2 linked regions of the Homo sapiens genome follow. The protein of the gene in region 1 interacts with the protein of each later gene in a pairwise test. Each region holds a gene or a part of one and is shown on either strand. Other genes may lie near its edges.

Region 1 (3,749 bases):
CAAGCTAAAAAGTTTCCAAGAAATAAGAAAATAAGGCTTCTCTAATCTCACTTTTCTTCTACAGTTTAATTTAAAAAATTAAAGACAGTTCGTTGGTTCCTAGGTAAAAAAATAAATAAATAAATAAAAAAGTCCCTCCCACCTGTTCATTCCACTCCAAGAAAAGTCCTCTTTATTGGCACTATTTATGGGAAAGCCAGTGAGGTCACCCCATTTTAAAAAGCAAGTCAGTCTCTGAAAATAAGATTTCAATGAAAATGCAACGCAAAAGGGCACACGACTGCAAAATTCAAACAGCAAGAACGAACCTCTCTATAAAGAGAGATCCATCACTGCGCGGCTTCCGATGCCACCCGAGGAGGAAGAGCACGCAAATCCTGTCCAGCGTTCGTTTAAAACGAAAGAACAGTAACAGTCGCAGACAGAGGCCAACCCCTACCATCCCCCGTCATCCCTCCGAAAACACTGGGGAAAAGAGCAGCACTGAGCAAAAAGACAAGATGACATGGATTTTGCACTTAATGCTAACGAGGAGCTTGGGACCCAACAATCAGCAAATAGCAGAACCCATGGCAGATGGGGGGAAGGGGGGGCCGGTTCATCCGCAGTCGGAGCGATTAGAAAACAGGTTTCTGCCTTCATGAGAAGCCTCATCGTGGGAAGTGTCACCGCCTGGCTCAACACCTGCTGGGTCGGCCCCTCCGGGAGCCGCGGGGAGTCACCCCGGCTGCCGCGAGGGGACCCCCGTCCGCCCCCCGCCCCCGCTCCCCGGTGCCCGAAGCCCCCGAGGCCAGGGTCTCGGGGAAGGAGCGGAGCCAGGCAGTACCAGGTGTAGTCGTCCTCGTCCCGCCAGGCGGCTACGCTCTCCAGATCCAGCAATTCCACCTCGTCCAGCAGCGTGGGGGGCGGCGAGGGCGGCGCTGCAGCTGCCCCTGGCGGCGTCCCCGCGCCCCCCGGCTCCGGCCCGCCACCGCCCGCGCCGAAGAAGCCTGCTGCCGGCTTGAAGTAGACGAAGGGCGCCTCGGGTGGCTGCGCCAGGCTGCAAAGCAGGGAGGGCGCGGGGCTAGGCAGGCAGAAGGTGCCCGGGAACGCGGGGCTGGAGCCACCGCCGCTGCCACTACCGCTGCCGCCACCGCCCCCCGCGCCCAGCGCCAGCCCGAGCCCCAGGCCCCCTGAGGCCGCGGCGGTGGCCGTGGCGGCCGGGGGGCTCCGAGGACCCAAAGGCTGCAGGCCAGCGGGGGGCGGCGCGGCGGGCGGCGGCGGCGGCAGCAGCAGCAGGTGCGGGGCGGCGGCCGCGCTGGCCGCTCGACTCCGCAGCTGCTCGTTCTGCTTCTCCAGCTTGCGCACCAGCTCCTGCAGCTTCTTCACCTCCAGCTCCGCGTTCACCACCGGCCCGGAGCCCGCTCCAGAGCTGACCCCTGCCGAGGCGCATTTCACCTGCTCCGCCATCATCGTGGGCCCCGAGGGCGCCGCGGCCGCCGGGGAGTGCGCGCCGCCGCGCCGGCTCCTCGGGCCACGGGGAGGCTACGGCTCCTTCCCTGTCGCCCCGGCCTGGGGGGCCGACCACGCGCGGGCTGAGGCCGAGCCGGCGGTTCGCATCAGCACCGGGCCCTCGCCTCCGGCCGCGGCAGCCACCACCGAGCTGATCTGCACATGCTCAGTGCGTCCCTCCAGTCCCCTGGGCGTCGCGGCGGCTCCGGGTTTTAGCCGCGGCCCCGGAGCGGGGCGGGGCAAGAGCGCCGAGGGGGCGGGTGGGGGGGGGGGGGCGGAGAACCGTGGGGAAGCCCACCCAGGGGGCGGGGCCGGCAGCCCGGGTTGGGGCCGGGGAGCCGCACCCACCCTCGCTACCTAATCCCAGGGGCCTGATTGGACCTGGCCTGAACTTTCCCGCCACAAGCACCTCCTCCTGCCGCTTGGTGGGACAGTGAACTGCGCGGGTCTCTGAGGCGGTTGCGGGGACCAGGGGGTTCCCAAAGAAGCAGCTGCAGGTGCTGGCCCTCGAGTAGTGCACCACCGGCCCGCTGGTTTGCTCCCTTCCCAGCTCTCTGTTAGGCTCCGTGACAGCACTTAATAGCCACTGGCTAACGAATCCTATAGAAAACTTAAAGGCTGGGGATCGTTATTCTAAAAACCGAAAAGTGGAGATAGGGGGAACAGAAAGGCTTTGGGACCATGCCACTCATGTTCTCATTGGTAATAGAGAAGCAAAATGGTGGGAGACAGGAGACCGAGAAGAAAGAGAAGAAAGCCCTCTCTCTAAGAGGTAGAGTGGCCAGCTGCTAAGGAGACAAGTGTTTACTTATTTATTCTAAAATAGTCAAATTTGAACTGTTACCATCATTGTTTGTCACAATAAAAGAAGAACTGCTTTTTTTTTCATACTATGTATATTCATGCATTCCCCAAACAAAAGATCTTTGAGCACCTACTCTGTGCCAGGAACCATTCTAAGAGCTCGTGATGCGGGCAATGAGTACAATAGGCAAAAATGGTTATGGGGAGAAATATGAGTAAAATTGTTTAGTGCTCCTTCTATTAAATAATGTGTAAGTTATTAAAGTCAGACTTGCTGGTGGGAAAGCAGAAAACAGAAAACCTCAGAATTCTACCCAATACACTTTAATCTCACCTGCAAACCTGCTATTTCTTACCACTTGGAAAACGAGCAAATCTGCTTTTTTTAAAAGAGGCTTTTAAGCAGAAGAATTTAATCGAGTTGTGTTCAATGAATACTGACTGACTTAGCATTTTGAGTGTTTAACACAATCAGAGGAAAACCTGAGATTATATTATGAGAAAAATCTACACCACTGGTTCTCATCCTCAGATGATATACTATCTAGTGAAAGTCCTTGCTAGGGACTTTACATACCAATCTTTGTGACAATGTACCTCATTTCTCTGGAGCTGCTAACACATCGTATCTATTGGTTTCAGATATGGTTTTGTGTCTTCCTGCTCAGAAACACTTGTATCTTCTCAGTTGTTAATCTACATCTCTAGCTTCTGTGTGCAGGGTGGATGTTCTGCATTTAACATGCTTGGTGAGCGCTTCCATAAATTAGCTAAATGCGTGTGATGACTCCCTTAACCTTCCCTGTGTCCCAGCTTGCTAGCCCACCACCTAACCACCTGTATCACCCATCACCTTTCCAAGTTTCGGTATATCTTTAGGATTTTTTTTGGTTATTACCAAAACCTGGAGAAATGGAGTAATACTACTGAAAGTCCTAAGTAAAGAATCTATTGAAGGATTTTTCCCGCATGCTCAGTGGCAGATGCGGGTAGCAGTATCTCCCTGCAACACAAAGAAAGGGAGACGACAGACACAATGAGAACAAAGAGCTGCTGGGTCCCAGACTAGAGAAAGAAATTGGGAATAGGCACATAATAGTGAAGACAACAAGAATTAAGATGTAAAGAAAAGCCGTCATTTTACTGCACAATTTATATACACTCTAAAGAAGGAGAGAAACAGACAGCCCTTTCCTCCTTCATTTACCCAATATGGTCTATATACATCCAACAAGCAGTAGCCAAGCTTTTGAACCCTGTTTTCTAAGTAATAATTATCATAAAAATCTTTGTTCTTTAAAAAGAAAGCATGCATTGAAATTTAGACATAGAAAAGAGATGAAACATTGTTTTACAATTCTAGTCTGCATTATTCTTCTGAAAAGACAAATTTGCCCTTTTCCTACCTATTTTAAAAGTGTGAAATTATTAATGTCTAAAGAAAATTTAAATCA
Region 2 (3,749 bases), on another chromosome or scaffold:
AACAAACCAACAAAAACCAGAAGAGTAATCAGTGGGAATGTCAGGGTAGCCAACCATCTTCAGGCTAGAAGTTAGGTCCTGTGCACTCTGCCAAAACCTCCATGACAGTGTCTGAAAACCTGTTCGCAGTTAGAAATCTGAGAGTTCAAAATCTCAATCGTCAAATTAAAATCCATTTCTTGACATCAAACTTGTAGCCAATACAATGGCAAACCATGTAAACACCTGCTTTAGGAGCTAAAAACAAATTCTCCTGTACTTCCCCCTCTTCATATTCTCACCGAGTTTTAAGCCAAAATACAACAATAAAAATGTTCCCCCAGATTCCTGGACCTAAGACTACCATTTCACTTTTGTTATCGGTTTCACTCTGTACTTAGAGATGCAAAATGCATTTCAAAAAAAAATCTTAAATGACTTCTTAAAATTTTAGATGAACAGGAAAGCAAGGTAGGTATTAATGAATCTGTGGTGTAGAGTCATACTGTGAGAATTTTGATCCTGATTATTTTAGGAATTAGATAAGTCTACCCCAAATATATTAAACAAAGAGAAATCAATGTCTTTATGCAAAATTCACATAGCCCTCTTCTAAAAATGGATCTCTACTCACAGTCACTATAAATCATAAGCAAATTGATATTCTGACATAAACTTTCCTCTCTTGCATACTAGCCAGTATACAAATGAGGACACAAGGAATCTCACACAGTTGCCAGTTAGCTTCAAGTTTATGATAAGTGAGAGAACAGAGCGTTTGAGTATATGTATGAATTATTTTCCTGGATGCTAAGGGTAGGGAATACCACAATTTTAGAACTTTCTTATCTTTACTAATCTTCAGTGGATTAGAAACCTAATTTAGGGAGATGTAGATGATTATCATTTTTAAAAGAAGTTGTTAGATCAGGCTCTCCCCAACTGGAAGACTTTTGGCAAAGTGAACCTTATGTGTTGAAAGCCAGCTGCTCCCAGGGAAGCCACTGAGTCTGCTATCTACCCACGTGCTAACTCCCTGGGCCCAGAGTCTCCCTCTCCTACATCTAGGTTGGGCTTCTGGCTTATGCTCAAGTAGACATTTATTAGGTAAGTTACACAAGCTGCATATTAAGAGTATGCTTTATGCACACACAAATTGCCTGAAGGATTTATTTTGTATTCAGGATTAGCCATCAACTCTAGAGTCTTTTATTTTTTATGTCACAGCATCTTTAAAGGGAATTTCTGTTGCTTTGATACCTGGCATTGCTGCAACCTTGGGGAACTCTCTAGTCCTGGCTAAAGATTTGGCAACTTGTAGAGTTTACAGCAACTTGGGGAACCTGATATCTTTCTTCTTGGTGATTTATTCTTTAGAGAGGTGGAAAAAAGTAGTAGGTCAATATCACCAGGGTTTTGCCTTTAGATTGAAGGTGCTGAGGGAGTGATACTTCTTTAAGATAATCCAGACTACAGATGGTAATGATGAGATCTCAAAGAAGAATGTTATGAAACGTTGGCCCACACCAAGCCATTTACAGTAGTCATCCCCAGTGTTACTACTTGAACTTCCTCATGGTGCTTGTGTTGCATGTCAGCTCATATTGAAATTATGTGATAATCATTCTAGATTCAGCATCACAATTAAGAATGTCTTTGATTCTATAGCCAGTGTATTCATGCAGAACTTCTCCAGAGTTCATCCCTTTTCCATATACAGTTCACAGAAGCAATACTTTCACAAAGTTCACTATTTTTAAATTTGGAATTTGGAGATAGGGCTCTCTATTTTCAGTGATGCTGCAAATTCTGATGGGTAGCTATGGTAACAGTGGTAAGAAATCAGAAACTATCTGCTCAAGGTCCTTTGCCTAGGACATGGCTTTCATTAAAAGGGATAACTTTGCCATAGCTACAGGAAGAAGTCAGCCAGAGACTTCTGGCTCAGGTGTGACAAAACTAGCACAAAATACATGGATGCAGATCCTCCAGCTGCCATATCTTGTTAGATCTTATTCGGTTTGAAGAAGCATGGGGTGGCTTTACCTTGGCTGCCTTGGCATAACAGGGGACATCTGGCCAGTGTCTGCAGACAGTGTGGGGCAGTGGAAAGAGTACCGGGCTACAAGTAAGAATTTGACCAACTATCGACTCACGCAACTTTGGGCGAATGACTCTGGGTCTAGTCTGTCCATCTAAACAATGAAGATGCTCACACTTGCTCTACTTATCTCCCCACCTTGTAAGGAGGTGCAATGGGAAATGGATGCACGCACGCTCGGCAACCTGATTATAGGCCACCCAACCCCGCCACTTTTTTTTAAAAAAACAACTACCCCGTTGCAGGGTGTGAACTGCGGGGTAGGACAAGACAGGTCCCCCCGCCGACACACACACACACACACCCCGCCACCGTCTGTGCTGCAACTGGATGGGAAAGACAAGCGCCGGAGCCTGGGTGAGCTTTTTCTCTTCTCATCCCAGGCTACTGGGGCAGAGGAAACAGCGGCGGCTGTCTCCAAGGAGCCGCGGGTCCCTGGAGCCTCTAAATCTGCCTCTGAGCCATACTCACGGCCTCCGCGCCTCCCCCGTCTCAGAACGCACCCAGCTGTGGCGAGAGGTCCCGCGCGCTCTCCAGGTGCGATCAATACTTCCTAGCGGGCTTCCGGGCGCTGGGCCGGTGCGCGCATCCTCTCCAAAGCCACAGCGCCGCCCCACTCGTCGTAGCGTCGGTGTTGACATAATTAGACCAAATCTTGAGAGCAAAATAAATGATCTGTTCGCCTTACAGCCAAACAGATGTTTACAATTCAAATGAAAGAAATACAAACGGCAGGGATTTTTCTTCTCCCCTTCTTCATCTCCAGTGATCGCTCTTTTTTTTCTGACACATTAAAAATGTGTAAGCGATTACAAGAGTTTCCTGTCCCTGTTTGTTCTGCGGTTGCATTTCTGCGAGGTGCGCCTGTGAGTTGGGTGGGGAGAATTATTCTCTGCTGCTTCCTCTCTAGCCTCTCACCCTTCCTAACCCTCCTCCCCCATGTTACCCCTCCCCCCATGTTACCTCTCCCCCCACGGCAGCAGATATTAATTGTAATCAAACAGCAAAGGATGCGGACTTAATTGGAATCAAGTAGGCCTTTGATGATGTGTAAGGAGCGAATTGTTTGGGGGGAGGGTATAACATTACAGGTATAGCTGGATTACCAGGGCCGAATGAGCTTCTCCTTTTGTAGATTCCAGGCAGAACAAAAGAGAGGTGTGCGTGAAGAGACTCGCTGGTTTAATGTGGCGGTAGGTGTGTAATGGTGTATATTAGGGTGTGTGTATGGCGGGGGTTGGGGGGAGATTAATCCCCATTCCCCAGTGCAAAAAGTGTTTTGGTTTCTGCTGATTTTCAAAGCAGTTAAAGAAATTAGAGAAAAGGCTGTAGGCTGTGGGAAAGCTACCTCTTTCCCTCTACAACCCCCAACGCCCACAAAGATTTCCAACAAATCATGCTTCTGGATGCTTTGGTACAAGAGTTTTAGATTTCATATAAAGGAGATTGAATTTCAAACCTGCAGAATCTGCACTGGGGACTAAGGAGGCAGGCGAGGCTTGAGGTGTATCTCTGGCTCTATCTTCACCCATAATGGATGAACCATAGAGATGAGTTTTGGCTAGCGAGAGTAGTGATTCCAGGTAATCCATCTGGAATCCGAAGAGTACTGACAAAGGAAGAAGAGCAAGGCTTCCCACGCTCCTCCAATTGTACTCCTTCAGGAGCT

Evidence for each region. The genes of interacting proteins can lie anywhere in the genome.
Region 2: the proteins of SLAIN1 (region 1) and TFAP2D interact in binary tests that used the Homo sapiens proteins (3 or more experiments, as listed by UniProt).

The regions. Positions count from the first base shown.
Region 1 is NC_000013.11:77,695,617-77,699,365, reverse strand, and holds the start of SLAIN1 (SLAIN motif-containing protein 1), read right to left. Parts: upstream 1,680-3,749; 5' UTR 1,453-1,679; coding exon 827-1,452; intron 486-826; exon of another isoform or gene 443-485; coding exon of another isoform or gene 309-442; intron 1-308. UniProt on the Homo sapiens protein: Microtubule plus-end tracking protein that might be involved in the regulation of cytoplasmic microtubule dynamics, microtubule organization and microtubule elongation.
Region 2 is NC_000006.12:50,723,399-50,727,147, reverse strand, and holds part of TFAP2D (transcription factor AP-2-delta), read right to left. Parts: intron 1-3,749.